Linked DNA regions of Homo sapiens. The protein of the gene in region 1 purifies or fractionates together with the protein of each later gene. This does not show direct contact. Each region holds a gene or a part of one and is shown on either strand. Other genes may lie near its edges.

What was found.
Region 2: the proteins of SLC44A5 (region 1) and CLDND1 purify together in Homo sapiens (affinity purification with mass spectrometry; 2 studies listed by BioGRID and IntAct, with this or other methods). This does not show direct contact.

Annotation. Positions count from the first base shown.
Region 1 is NC_000001.11:75,608,056-75,615,339, reverse strand, and holds the start of SLC44A5 (choline transporter-like protein 5), read left to right. Parts: upstream 1-4,225; 5' UTR 4,226-4,300; intron 4,301-7,284.
Region 2 is NC_000003.12:98,514,983-98,520,201, reverse strand, and holds the end of CLDND1 (claudin domain-containing protein 1), read left to right. Parts: intron 1-1,206; coding exon 1,207-1,317; intron 1,318-3,012; coding exon 3,013-3,150; intron 3,151-3,322; coding exon 3,323-3,543; 3' UTR 3,544-4,719; downstream 4,720-5,219. UniProt on the Homo sapiens protein: Plays a role in negatively regulating the permeability of cells to small molecules.

The DNA.
Region 1 (7,284 bases):
GGGTGACAAGTTCTGCATCCATTTCCCCAACCTCCATCCTCAGGAGGAGATTGGAGCTGGCTGCCTCTCCTTTTCCCTGCGGTCAAGGGGACTTGCTACCGGCCGAGTCCCTGCAGGCTACTTCCTGCTCCCCAACCTGTCGAGACGGGCAGTGGCTCCGGCTAAGCAGTCTCCCTGTTGCTCCTTTGGAACCCGGGCTTCCAAAGTTGGAAAGTTCGCGGAGAGAAGCGATGGCGGGGAGGACAAGGAAGAGCTTGTTGCTGGGGTGACGAGGCATTGCGGCGTGGTCCGGGGCGCGACTCGGGAGGGAGCCTCCTGGGCTGCGTCTTGCCTAGGGGTCGCAGAGCCGGCGCGCGGGGAGCAGGTGCAAGCCACCCGCTCCCGCAGCGCGGACTCGCAGAGGTCGCAGCTTGTCGGCTCCCTAGCTCTCGCTGGGGGACTCGCAGAGCCCTAGAGGTTGTCTGCAGCACTGCAGAGAGGTGGAAGTGGGCTCGACACCATGCGCGGTGAGGAAGGCTGTGCGCGGGGGAACTGGACCTGAGGATGGTGGCAAGGAAGGGGCGTCGTTCGAAGTTGGATTTCAACACAATGGGCCCAATGACCTGGGAGGCAGCGACTTACTGAGCCTTTGGGGTTATATAAAAAAGGACAGGAACTCAGATGAGAACTGAGGGGTGAAGGGTATTACTGAATACATTGGCTTGGACTACAGCAGCGCTCAGGCTTTGGCGTGCTTTTTGCTTTTCCTCCCAAGTCTGGCTTGTGGGAGCTTAGCTCCGCTCTAGAGGTCACTAGGGGGACACAACTTTATCTTGGCGCGTCAGCTTGCTTTTTAATTGCTCCGGAGTACTCAAAGCACTTACTGGAAAGCGTTTAAAATCATGATCCTTAATTCTTAAGAAGACATTACTATGAAAACACCTGGGACTTTTTGTTGTTAAAAATTATAACCTATGTATGACAATTTTATTGCAATGCCTTTTCTTAAAATATTATAGCTCCTGTAAAATTAGAGGGGCTTTAAACCTCTGATTCCCCCCCTCCATAAATTAGCGCATGGGTATAGAGATACACGAGTAAAGAAAGAAGAGAGAATATATTCACCTACAAACAGATTCCTCTCTTTATCATAATATCAAATAATTAGTCTAAGCCCAGATTGACAAGGCGTATGAGCTACACTTTTGGTTCGCTCCTTTTTTATGGAGCCATATGGCACGATGAGTGAAACAGAAGGATTGGTTTTCAGCACTGCTGATGTGGCTATCCATTGGCAGAAATACATTTCATTCCCACCCCAAACCTTGCAGATTGTAAATGGTCCATGAAGAGTGGAAAAAATTTTACAGTTTTACAGTACATGGTAGCCAGAGAAAATCTTACCCTTGAAATTAATAATCTTGGCAGAAGCACAAAAAGATACAATTAGATTGATGAAATGAGCTCATATAAGAGATTTGATGAAAAAGACACCTCCCCTTTATTCTTCCGTCCCCTCAAAACACCAAAAAGTTTTTGTTTTGTAGGTCAGTATGGAATCATTTGTATTTTCTTGAATAAGTTTAATTTGATAGTGAAATAATTGAAGAATAGCAGTTAAGTGTTAACAGTTTCTCTGGAAGGATTAATAATCAAGCTTTCTTACGACATGTGGTCTCAATAAATTTTATGTAGTACTTTAAAAATAAGGTTTTCTCATGCTACATGTTTTTCTTAAAGGAAAAGTTATGTTACTTAGCTCCTATCAACTTGTGTTGAGTTGTTCTTGTTTTTTAAAACAAGTTCATTTAGTATTTCACAGAAAGAAGGACACCTTTAAAAACAAATCCTTGGAGTTTCACTTTAGCGAAGCAGGATGAATTGTGATATTTGATAGATGACAGAAGCAAACCCAGAAAGTTGTAATCTATTGACTTGCCTCAATTTTGCCTTTTAAGAGGAGAGCTCTACAAAAGCATCTGACTGCAGGCTTGCTGAACTGCTCTCAGATGTCTGCTTCTAAGCTACAACCAACTAAACTGGGACTGCCTGGTAGGAAAAATTTCTAGGCTTTATTGGCAGGGGCAGGCTACTGGGGTGAACTTTGCTGGATAAAACACTGTAGATTTAGCAATATTCCATGCTGTGTTGGTTATTCTCTTACAAGAGCTGCTTCTCTGCTTAGCTACACCGCATGCAGGGAGAGATCATTCGTCGGATCTTGTGACAGGCAAGTTGCTCATTGGCTTCTGAAGTCCTAGCAAGAGAGACTATCCATAAGCCTAGAAATTGGCCAAAGAGAAATGCAGTTTCTTAACATTGATAGAAGAATAAGATCTGTTGGCAGGATTTCTCAAGGGACATTAGCATTCATTTGTGACATCTCATCAAAAGGACAGTCTTTCAGAAAGGCCAATGGAATCTTTTACAATCCAATATTGATAATGTTTTTAACGAAAAAATGCTATAGTTCATAATCAATACAAGTCTTATAAATGCAAGCTGGTTACATTGGTTATAATCACGTCACCACCCCCACCCCTGCCTTTTCCAATATTAGTACAACAAAGACTTCTTGCTCAATTACTTAAGTGTAAAACTTATGTTTAGGTTAATTTATTCATTTATTCATTTAGCACATATTTATTGAGCACTGAATATGTACCAGATTCTGTGCAAAACACTAGGGATACGGTAATGAACATGATAGACAATGAAGTAAGAGGAGGCCTGGAAGAAGCAGGTGACAAATAATATGAACCAGAAAATTTCACATAGTGATTAATACCAGGAGAAATAAAACAAAGTGATGTGCGAGCAAATGATTTTGAGGTTACTTTAGATTGTCTGGAAAGGTGGCATTTGTGTCGGGAAACAAGTGATGAAGAGTAATTTGCATGCCAAGAACTGGAACATAACACTTCAGGCCTTAAGGTAGAAATGAGGTGGTAGCTTGGCACATTCACATACAAAAGGAAGAGGTGTAATGTGTAAGGAAGAGACAGTTAGGGAGAAGCCAGGCCTTTTTGGTCATAAAAAGGAATATAGAGTTTAAGTGCAATGAGAAGCCATTGGATATTCACTTGCTATTTGGGGATACATTCCTCTCCTGGAAGATTATTTCAGGGAGAGGAGCATTCCTACATCAACTCCCTAGGCCAACTAAGGTGACCTAATAGACTTCACTTTTCTAAAAGGTCCAGTTATACTCACGTTATTTTCTCTTGCTATTCACCAGAATACCTATGCAATTTCAGGCTGAGATATTGATAGCATCTCTAGGAATCCCTGCTTAGAAAACAATTCTAGAGAGAATGAGGATTAATTTAACATTTAGTACAAGATGATAAGATTAGTCACTTCCCTGGCAAGCCTTTCAATGCAAGTAAGTCTTAGGAAAAACATATTGTAATGGTAGAGGGGGATTCTGAGGGGTCCAGAACATGACTGTGCAGTAGGCAGAATGTGGAAGGCAGCATGAGGGGCTCCTAGATAACAGAAAGGGGTCCACAGAAGGAGAAGAGTGATGTTTGGAAGGGGACATGAGAAAGCCTCTAAAACAACATCAGCCAATTCGTGATTTTGCCAAGTGGAAGCCTGATATGAGCATGTTCCAAGAGAAACATTCTCATTCAAACACAGAAAAAGTTTAAACCAGGGTACTTTTATGCTTTTGACTGATCTTTTTATAATGAAGCATTTGTAACAATAAAAGCACACAGATGTTTACAAAGTCTCTTTGATTTTACTTAATCACTGTCAGGTTGTTCTGATGGATTACAGACCTCACAAATGAAAATAGCATGAACATATTAATGATAACTGCTGTTTGTTGGAGGTAGTTGCTTGATAGCTAGTTAAGGAAATCATGCTCTTGGGTCTCATTTTACTGTAGAGATGTTGGTAAGTGGGATATGGGGTATATTGGATGATTTTCTTTCCCCTAAGCATTTGTGACAAGAAGGTGCTATGATATTCAGGAAAGACACAAATAATAGTAGATTATTTTAAAGGTAATCATGGCCTACTTCCACCTCCAAACTACCTACTTCTTTGCCAAGGATTAACAATGAAAAAATATACTATAGCTCCAGGACTTTGTTCAGTCTCCTCCCCCTCTTTATACTCCAAGTGACTCCTTTGAGGCTAGCAAGGCTAGTAGGACCTCAGGGATTACCTAAGAATGGGGTATGGCCCTTAGTGATACTGGAACACAATGTGTTTATGACATCAGCTTTTTTTTCACAGTAGTGAATCGTAGCATGTTAGAGTTAGAAGGTTCAGTGTTGATGGAGTTATTGAAGAAATGATGGAGTAAGAGGTGAGTGATACTGCTAAATGCAAGAAGTCTATGTCTGTAGGAAAATTGGTCAAGTTTGTTATTCATAAGTACGTATTCTATACAACTCAAGAAATACACACACACACACACATATATATAGTGAAGTCTGAATATAAATTAGGAACTGAGCACTTCCTCTCCGTGTGTGTGTGTGTATATATATAGATATCCTGGGGGATTATTTAAAGAGAGTAGTATTTTTACATCAGCTCCCTAGGCCAAGTAAGGTGACCCAATGGACTTCACTTTTCTAAAAAGTCCAGTTACACTTATGTATCTTCTCTTAATATTCACCAAAATATCGACAATATTTCGGGCTGAGATGTTGATAACATCTCTAGGAATCCTTACCTACTGGTATTCACACCTGTTCATACTCCCCTTCCAAAATGAATCACAGCTGACCATGTGATCAGTACTGTACAGCAGAAAACTACATCATAAAGACATACACTATGGCTTCTGCCTTGTTCTTTTGTATTCTTTGCTTTCTTATGTTGCTCATTTTGGGGAAACCAGATGCCATGTTTTAAAAATACTCAAGGATCCCTTGGATTATTTTTTGAAGCAGAGGTTCATACAGATATTATTAACATTTCAGCCCAAAATATTGTCGGTATTTTGATGAATAGTAAGAGAAGATACATAAGTATAACTGCACTTTTTAGAAAAGTGAAGTCCATTGGGTCACCTTACTTGGCCTAGGGAGCTGATGTAGAAATATTGCTCTCTCTAAATAATTCTCCAGGATATCTATGTGTATATAGGTATATGTATGTATATGTATATACCTATGGAGAGAGAAGAAGAGCTCAGTTCCTAATTTATATTCAGACTTCACTATGTGTGTGTGTGTGTGTGTGTGTGTGTGTGTGTGTGTGTATTTCTTGACTTGCATAGAAGTCTTGAATCTTAGCTCTGTGTGGGAAGAACTGAGGCCTCCTGCTAATAGCAACAACTTGCTAGTTATGTGAGTGATCTATCTTGGGAACAGACCCTGCAACCAAGTCAAGCCTTCAGATGACTGTAGCTTCAGCCAACATCTGACTGAATTTCATGATAGCCCCGACCCAGAGCTATCCAATCAAGCTGCTTCTGGATTCCTGAATCACAGAAACCATAAGATATAATAAATGCTTACTCTTGTCTTAAACCACTAAAATTTGGGGGTAATAGGTTACATAACATTAGATCATGAATATACCTGTGGTTCATTATTTTTGCACCTCTATCATGAAATGTAATATTTGTTACTAGTTCCAACACTGATCTTGAATCTTAGCCCTCTTTCCTATTTAGTGAATTGGGCTGAAACCCTGAAGTTCTCTTTTCTTGTTTCCCTTGAGTTTCTTGTAGCAGCTTGCTTTCTCCTCTGCTTTTTTGAGTACTGATTCCTGGCTCCTCTAGTTCATTTAGTTTAGAAGATACTTTCCAAATTGAAGCACTACCGAACCAAAAATCAGAGTGATAAAGAGAATACAAAAGCCCTAAAATCTCCCAACAGCACAAGATTTCACAGTCCTCCAAACTAAGAAGATAGAAAGTTTCTTAAAATCTACAATCTTTTATTCTCACCATCAAAAATAAGAATGTAAGGTAATGAATATGTTAAATAGCTTGATTTAGCCATTCCACAATGTGTATATATATCAAAACATCAGGTTTCACACCATAAATATATAAATTTTTACTTGCCAATTAAAAAAGAAAAAACCCAAAGAAATGAAACCCTAAAATATTCAAATAAAAACCTTTCCAGCTGTATTTATCTATTCCTCCTTACCAAAGAATCCCTTCCTCCTCCCAGCCCAGTTAGTCCTTTGAGGTATAAATAGGAGACTGAGAAAGAGGATTTAAGAAAGGAAGGTTGCCGTCTCTTCTACTTGAGAGTAGGATATTAATCTATTTTATTCGTTCATGTAGTTCTCTATTCATTCAATAAGTGTTAATCAATCGCTTACTATGTACTGGGCACTATTCTAAGCATGCTTGGGATAAATCAGGGAACAAAATGAATTCTTCATGAGGTTTACACTATACATAGGGAAGACAAACAATGAATAATAAGCATGAATACATTGTTGATATTAAAAATTGAAAAGTGCCATGACAGAAAGAAAAAAAAATGAGCATAGTAAGGGGGATTTGGATTGCTAATCATGGGATGATGGTGGGCCAGCTGCAAGTATTAATAGGGTGGTTAGGGTAGGACCAATTGACGAGGTAATATTGAAGGACATGAAGCAGTGGAAGGGGAGGAGACTTCCAGAAGGAAGGAAAAGCCAGAGCAAAGACCCTACAGTGAAAATATACCTGGTATGTTTGACTAACAGAAAGAAGACCAAGTGGAATTAGTAAGGGGGATAGAAATAGAAAATGAAGTCAGAAAGATGAGGGAAGACTAAATTATATTAAACTTTTTAGAAAGTTTTAAGACTTTGGTTTTTACTCTGGGGAAATGTGGCACCAGTTCAGATTTTGAACAGAGGAAAAATATGATCTGACTTACATTTTAAAATAATTGCTACGGCGACTGTGTTGAGAATATCGAGCCAATATGTAGGGGTAATGAGAAACTAGAAGACTAGTAAGGAATCTTTTGCAATAACTCTTTAAAAATTTTCTTCTTCTGGTGGCTGAATAATACTCCATTGTGTACACACACAACACACACACACACACACACATACCCCTCACATTTTGTTTATCCATTCATCTGTGGATAGACACGTAGGTTGATTCCATATCTTTTTCTCTGGAAAAATATATTTTCAGTTCCTTTGCCTATTTTTAAGTTGGGTTATTTGTTTTTTTTTGTTTTTTGTTTTGTTTTGTTTTGTTTTTGCTATTGACTTACAACAACATGGATAAACCTGGAGGACTTTATACTAAGTGAAATCAACCAGGCACAAAAAGAAAAATACTGTATGATCTCACTTATATGTGGAATCCAAAATTATTGA
Region 2 (5,219 bases), on another chromosome or scaffold:
ATTCATTAAACAAATAATTTATTGCATGTCTCCATGTTCCAGGGCCTCTTAGCTGGGAGAACATCAGGAAAGAACAAAATCCTTACTCCTGGGGAGCTAGCATTCTAATAAAGGATGACAGGCAGTGAACAGAATATAACAGTATAAACAGAATAAATAATTATTCAGTATGTTAAAAGATGACATGTGCTATGGCAAAATAGAACACAAAAGGGATTTGGAAATATGTGGGAAAAGGAATATTGGTGGCCATAGGTTATGATTTTCAATAGGATACTTAAAGTAGGTCTCATTGAGAAGACACCACTTGAGTAAAGAATGTAGTTAAAGACTAGACAAAAGAGTTGGCCATATGGGTAAATGGGGAGGAAGTCATTTAGGTTGGAAAGGACATCTACTGCAAAGGCTCTATGGCGGGAGCATGCCTGAAATATTCAAGGACCAGTAAGGAAGCCACTGGGCTGGAATGGAGGGAGAGACGGGAAGTTGGGTATGCTGTTAAAGACCTACTTTGGGAGTGGGACTGGGGCAAATCCTGGAGGACTCTAGGCAGAATGAGAACTTTGGTGTTGACTCCAGATACAGTGCTGAGCCCTGATCTGGTCACCCTGGCTGTTGTGAGAACAGAGGCAGCAGACAAAGGTGGAAACTAGAAGACTATGGTTAGGAGGTTATAGAAGTAATTCAGGTTAAGTGATGATTATGACTCACACCAGAATGGTAGCACTGAGCAGCAGCTGGATTCTGGACATAGTTTGAAGGAAGAATTCCTGGGATTTCCTGATGGAGTGTAAATGTACAAGAATTACTCTAAAGTTTCTGGTCTGAGGAACTGGAAGTGTGGATTTGGCATTCCCTGAGATGGGAATATGGTTGATAAAGCACGGTTGCATGAGAAGATCAACATTCCTATTTATTTCAGTCTTTGTTCCCTCCCCTTCTTCCTAGGCTTTCTACATAGCTATTCTGCCATTCATTTTACTGCTTCCACTTTATTTTTCTTCCTTGTGCCTATGTCTTCAGCCTGCCACTGAGAACCAGTGGCATCCATTGGACATCTATGAAACCTGTGTGTCAGTCAGGGCCAGAGAAGTTGCTGACCCCTCTGGAAACATCCTTTACTGTTTTACTTCAGAGAATAATTACTGAAAGAGATTTTTGTTAAATGTTTATAATTAAAACAACAGGCAATTGTTCTTGTTCCAGAGTCATTTGATGTGGTCACAAAATGTGTGAGTTTCACACTAACTGAGCAGTTCATGGAGAAATTTGTTGATCCCGGAAACCACAATAGCGGGATTGATCTCCTTAGGACCTGTGAGTACTTTGATTTCACCAGGACAGTTGGGGGAACAAAGATAATTTTATTTGTCTCTTTTTGGACTATGTTTTTGGAATAAGATGAGTTAGTAGATTGTGCCAACGTGAAATAAAATCTCTAACAGTATCCAGTGAACTCTATTCTGTTGATATTTTAGAAGGTAGATACATGCTTACCAAATTTCAAATGATTTGAAGTTGACAGGGCCAACTACTTCATTGGATGATGGGATCTAGACCTTCAAAAGATGTTATTAATGGGCCCATTTAGTAAAAGGAAATTTAGTTGAGATAACTTATACATTCCTATATTTGAATTAAACACTTTCCACTGCTTGAGTTCAGGTAAGTATATGTGAAAAAAGTTTACTGCAAGCTCTAAATGAGTCAGTGAGTTGTCAGGCCTGTCAAAAGTGTTTATCCAGTCTTAGGTGATAGTAACAAAAGGGTAGATGTCAAAAAAGATGAAAGTATTTATTAGGAACAACCTATTCCCTGATGGTCAGGCAGCCCATGAAATACTGTCTTCAGATTTGAGCCTCAGTTTTCAGGGCTATAGGGACTTGCCCAGAAGAATGACCATGTTGTAAGAGAAAAGGTTGAATAAGAGGTAGGTATTCAGTTTTATAAAGAGAATGTGTAGCAAGCAGTTTATTACTAGGAGAGTTTGAAAGAAAGTAAGTTAGAAAAACACATAAGAAGTTCCAGAAAGCAAAACCAGCACCAAAAGGTGTAAAGTTTAGTCAAGATTGATATGAATGCATTTCTAATAATGAATATTATTGGAAAATGGAATGGCATGTTTTGTGAGGTCATCAGGTTTTCTTCCCATGTTGATGAGAGATTTATGATAATTAAAACTACCTTTAGATTCTCTGCTTTGTGCTTTATATATATTCTTCAACAGCCCTATAAGACAGGTCATTTATAATTACCATTAATTTACTTGTTGTTACTGCCTTTAGATCATATAAAGACCTAGATATTGTTGGTAGGTAGAGTCAGACTGATTTTTGTATCAAATCCTGGCTCTACCACTTACTGTGTTATTTTTACAAGTTATTTATGACTCTTGCCTCAGTTTCCTTAATTACAAAATGGAATTAATAATAATACAGCTGTAGCTATGGGGGATTGGATTCAGGACCCCCTGCTAATTCCAAGGTTGCTAAAGTACCTTATATAAAATGGCATAATATTAGCATATAACCTACACAATCCTCCTGTATACTTTAAATCATCTTTAGATTGCTTATAATACCCAATACAATATAAATGCTATGTAAATAGTTGTTATACTATATATTTGTAAATTTGTATCATTTTTTTTTCTGAATATTTTTAACCCTTGGTTAGTTGAATCTGCGGATGTGAAACCTGCAGATATGGAGGGCTGACTGTACCTACTTTCTAGGGTTGTTGGGAGGATTAATACAGAAAATGTGTAGACAAACATAGCATGGAACATAGTGAACCCTCAGTAATTGCTACTACCTGTTAGTGTCCTTTTACTTTTATCAGGACAAGAGTAGCATCCTTTTGAATAATGTGCTTTAGAAAAGAGGCCTCAATGTTAAAATACTTTCACACTTTTTGAGAAAAGATCTAATTAGAATATGAAAGAAATTGCCATTGCGGGGAAAATGGTCTGAAATCACGGTAACATTTCTTTTCTCTCTTTTTAAAAATCAGATCTTTGGCGTTGCCAGTTCCTTTTACCTTTTGTGAGTTTAGGTTTGATGTGCTTTGGGGCTTTGATCGGACTTTGTGCTTGCATTTGCCGAAGCTTATATCCCACCATTGCCACGGGCATTCTCCATCTCCTTGCAGGTAGGTTTTGTCATCATACTTACCTTTTAGCTTCTTCCTGTCTCTTTAGGGACCAAAGAGTTATAAATCTGAAATGTTCACGTATTAACTGCCCTGTCACATTGCCTGAAAAGCTCTTTACTGTGCTTTTATCCAGCCATGTTTTGTTTTGTTTTCTAAATTTTCCCCCAAGGTCTGTGTACACTGGGCTCAGTAAGTTGTTATGTTGCTGGAATTGAACTACTCCACCAGAAACTAGAGCTCCCTGACAATGTATCCGGTGAATTTGGATGGTCCTTCTGCCTGGCTTGTGTCTCTGCTCCCTTACAGTTCATGGCTTCTGCTCTCTTCATCTGGGCTGCTCACACCAACCGGAAAGAGTACACCTTAATGAAGGCATATCGTGTGGCATGAGCAAGAAACTGCCTGCTTTACAATTGCCATTTTTATTTTTTTAAAATAATACTGATATTTTCCCCACCTCTCAATTGTTTTTAATTTTTATTTGTGGATATACCATTTTATTATGAAAATCTATTTTATTTATACACATTCACCACTAAATACACACTTAATACCACTAAAATTTATGTGGTTTACTTTAAGCGATGCCATCTTTCAAATAAACTAATCTAGGTCTAGACAGAAAGAAATGGATAGAGACTTGACACAAATTTATGAAAGAAAATTGGGAGTAGGAATGTGACCGAAAACAAGTTGTGCTAATGTCTGTTAGACTTTTCAGTAAAACTAAAGTAACTGTATCTGTTCAACTAAAAACTCTATATTAGTTTCTTTGGGAAACCTCTCATCGTCAAAACTTTATGTTCACTTTGCTGTTGTAGATAGCCAGTCAACCAGCAGTATTAGTGCTGTTTTCAAAGATTTAAGCTCTATAAAATTGGGAAATTATCTAAGATCATTTTCCCTAAGCATTGACACATAGCTTCATCTGAGGTGAGATATGGCAGCTGTTTGTATCTGCACTGTGTCTGTCTACAAAAAGTGAAAAATACAGTGTTTACTTGAAATTTTAACTTTGTAACTGCAAGAATTCCAGTTCAGCCGGGCGAGGATTAGTATTATTTTTAACTCTCCGTAAGATTTTCAGTACCACCAAATTGTTTTGGATTTTTTTTCTTTCCTCTTCACATACCAGGGTTATTAAAAGTGTGCTTTCTTTTTACATTATATTACAGTTACAAGGTAAAATTCCTCAACTGCTATTTATTTATTCCAGCCCAGTACTATAAAGAACGTTTCACCATAATGACCCTCCAGAGCTGGGAAACCTACCACAAGATCTAAAGTTCTGGCTGTCCATTAACCTCCAACTATGGTCTTTATTTCTTGTGGTAATATGATGTGCCTTTCCTTGCCTAAATCCCTTCCTGGTGTGTATCAACATTATTTAATGTCTTCTAATTCAGTCATTTTTTTATAAGTATGTCTATAAACATTGAACTTTAAAAAACTTATTTATTTATTCCACTACTGTAGCAATTGACAGATTAAAAAAATGTAACTTCATAATTTCTTACCATAACCTCAATGTCTTTTTTAAAAAATAAAATTAAAAATGAAAAGAGACTCAATTGTATATAGAGTGTCTGAATTGATTTAAATCTCAACACTTTAGGATAAAGAAGTGGAGGCAATCTCTGTGGTTGTCTGTGCAAAGTGCATCTTGCTGTACAGGGCTGTCGTTACATCCTGTGTTTGGGTCTCTTGTTTGATCTTCTGGGAAATGTAGGAACCCCTTCCCCCTATTAGAAATAAGAAAATCTTTATCTTTTATTTTTCAGAATTTTAAACCATGTTCTCAAAAGTAGTTTTGTTATCTCTACATGTCATACTTAATGTGGCTAGTTTTCAGTAAAGTCATTTAGTGGCTGTGGATGTTTGTGTTCTATAGTAAATAACCAAGTCAGCTTCTGACTTAGAACAAAGTCAGCATTACTCTGTAGCCAATTATTGCCTGTGAAATGACTGGTTACTCAGGTTTCTATCTAATCTTAATTCTTGAAGATTCATTACCCTTCAGCGCCTTCTGTGGAAGGTGGAAAAGAGAAAAGCTAAATGAACAAACA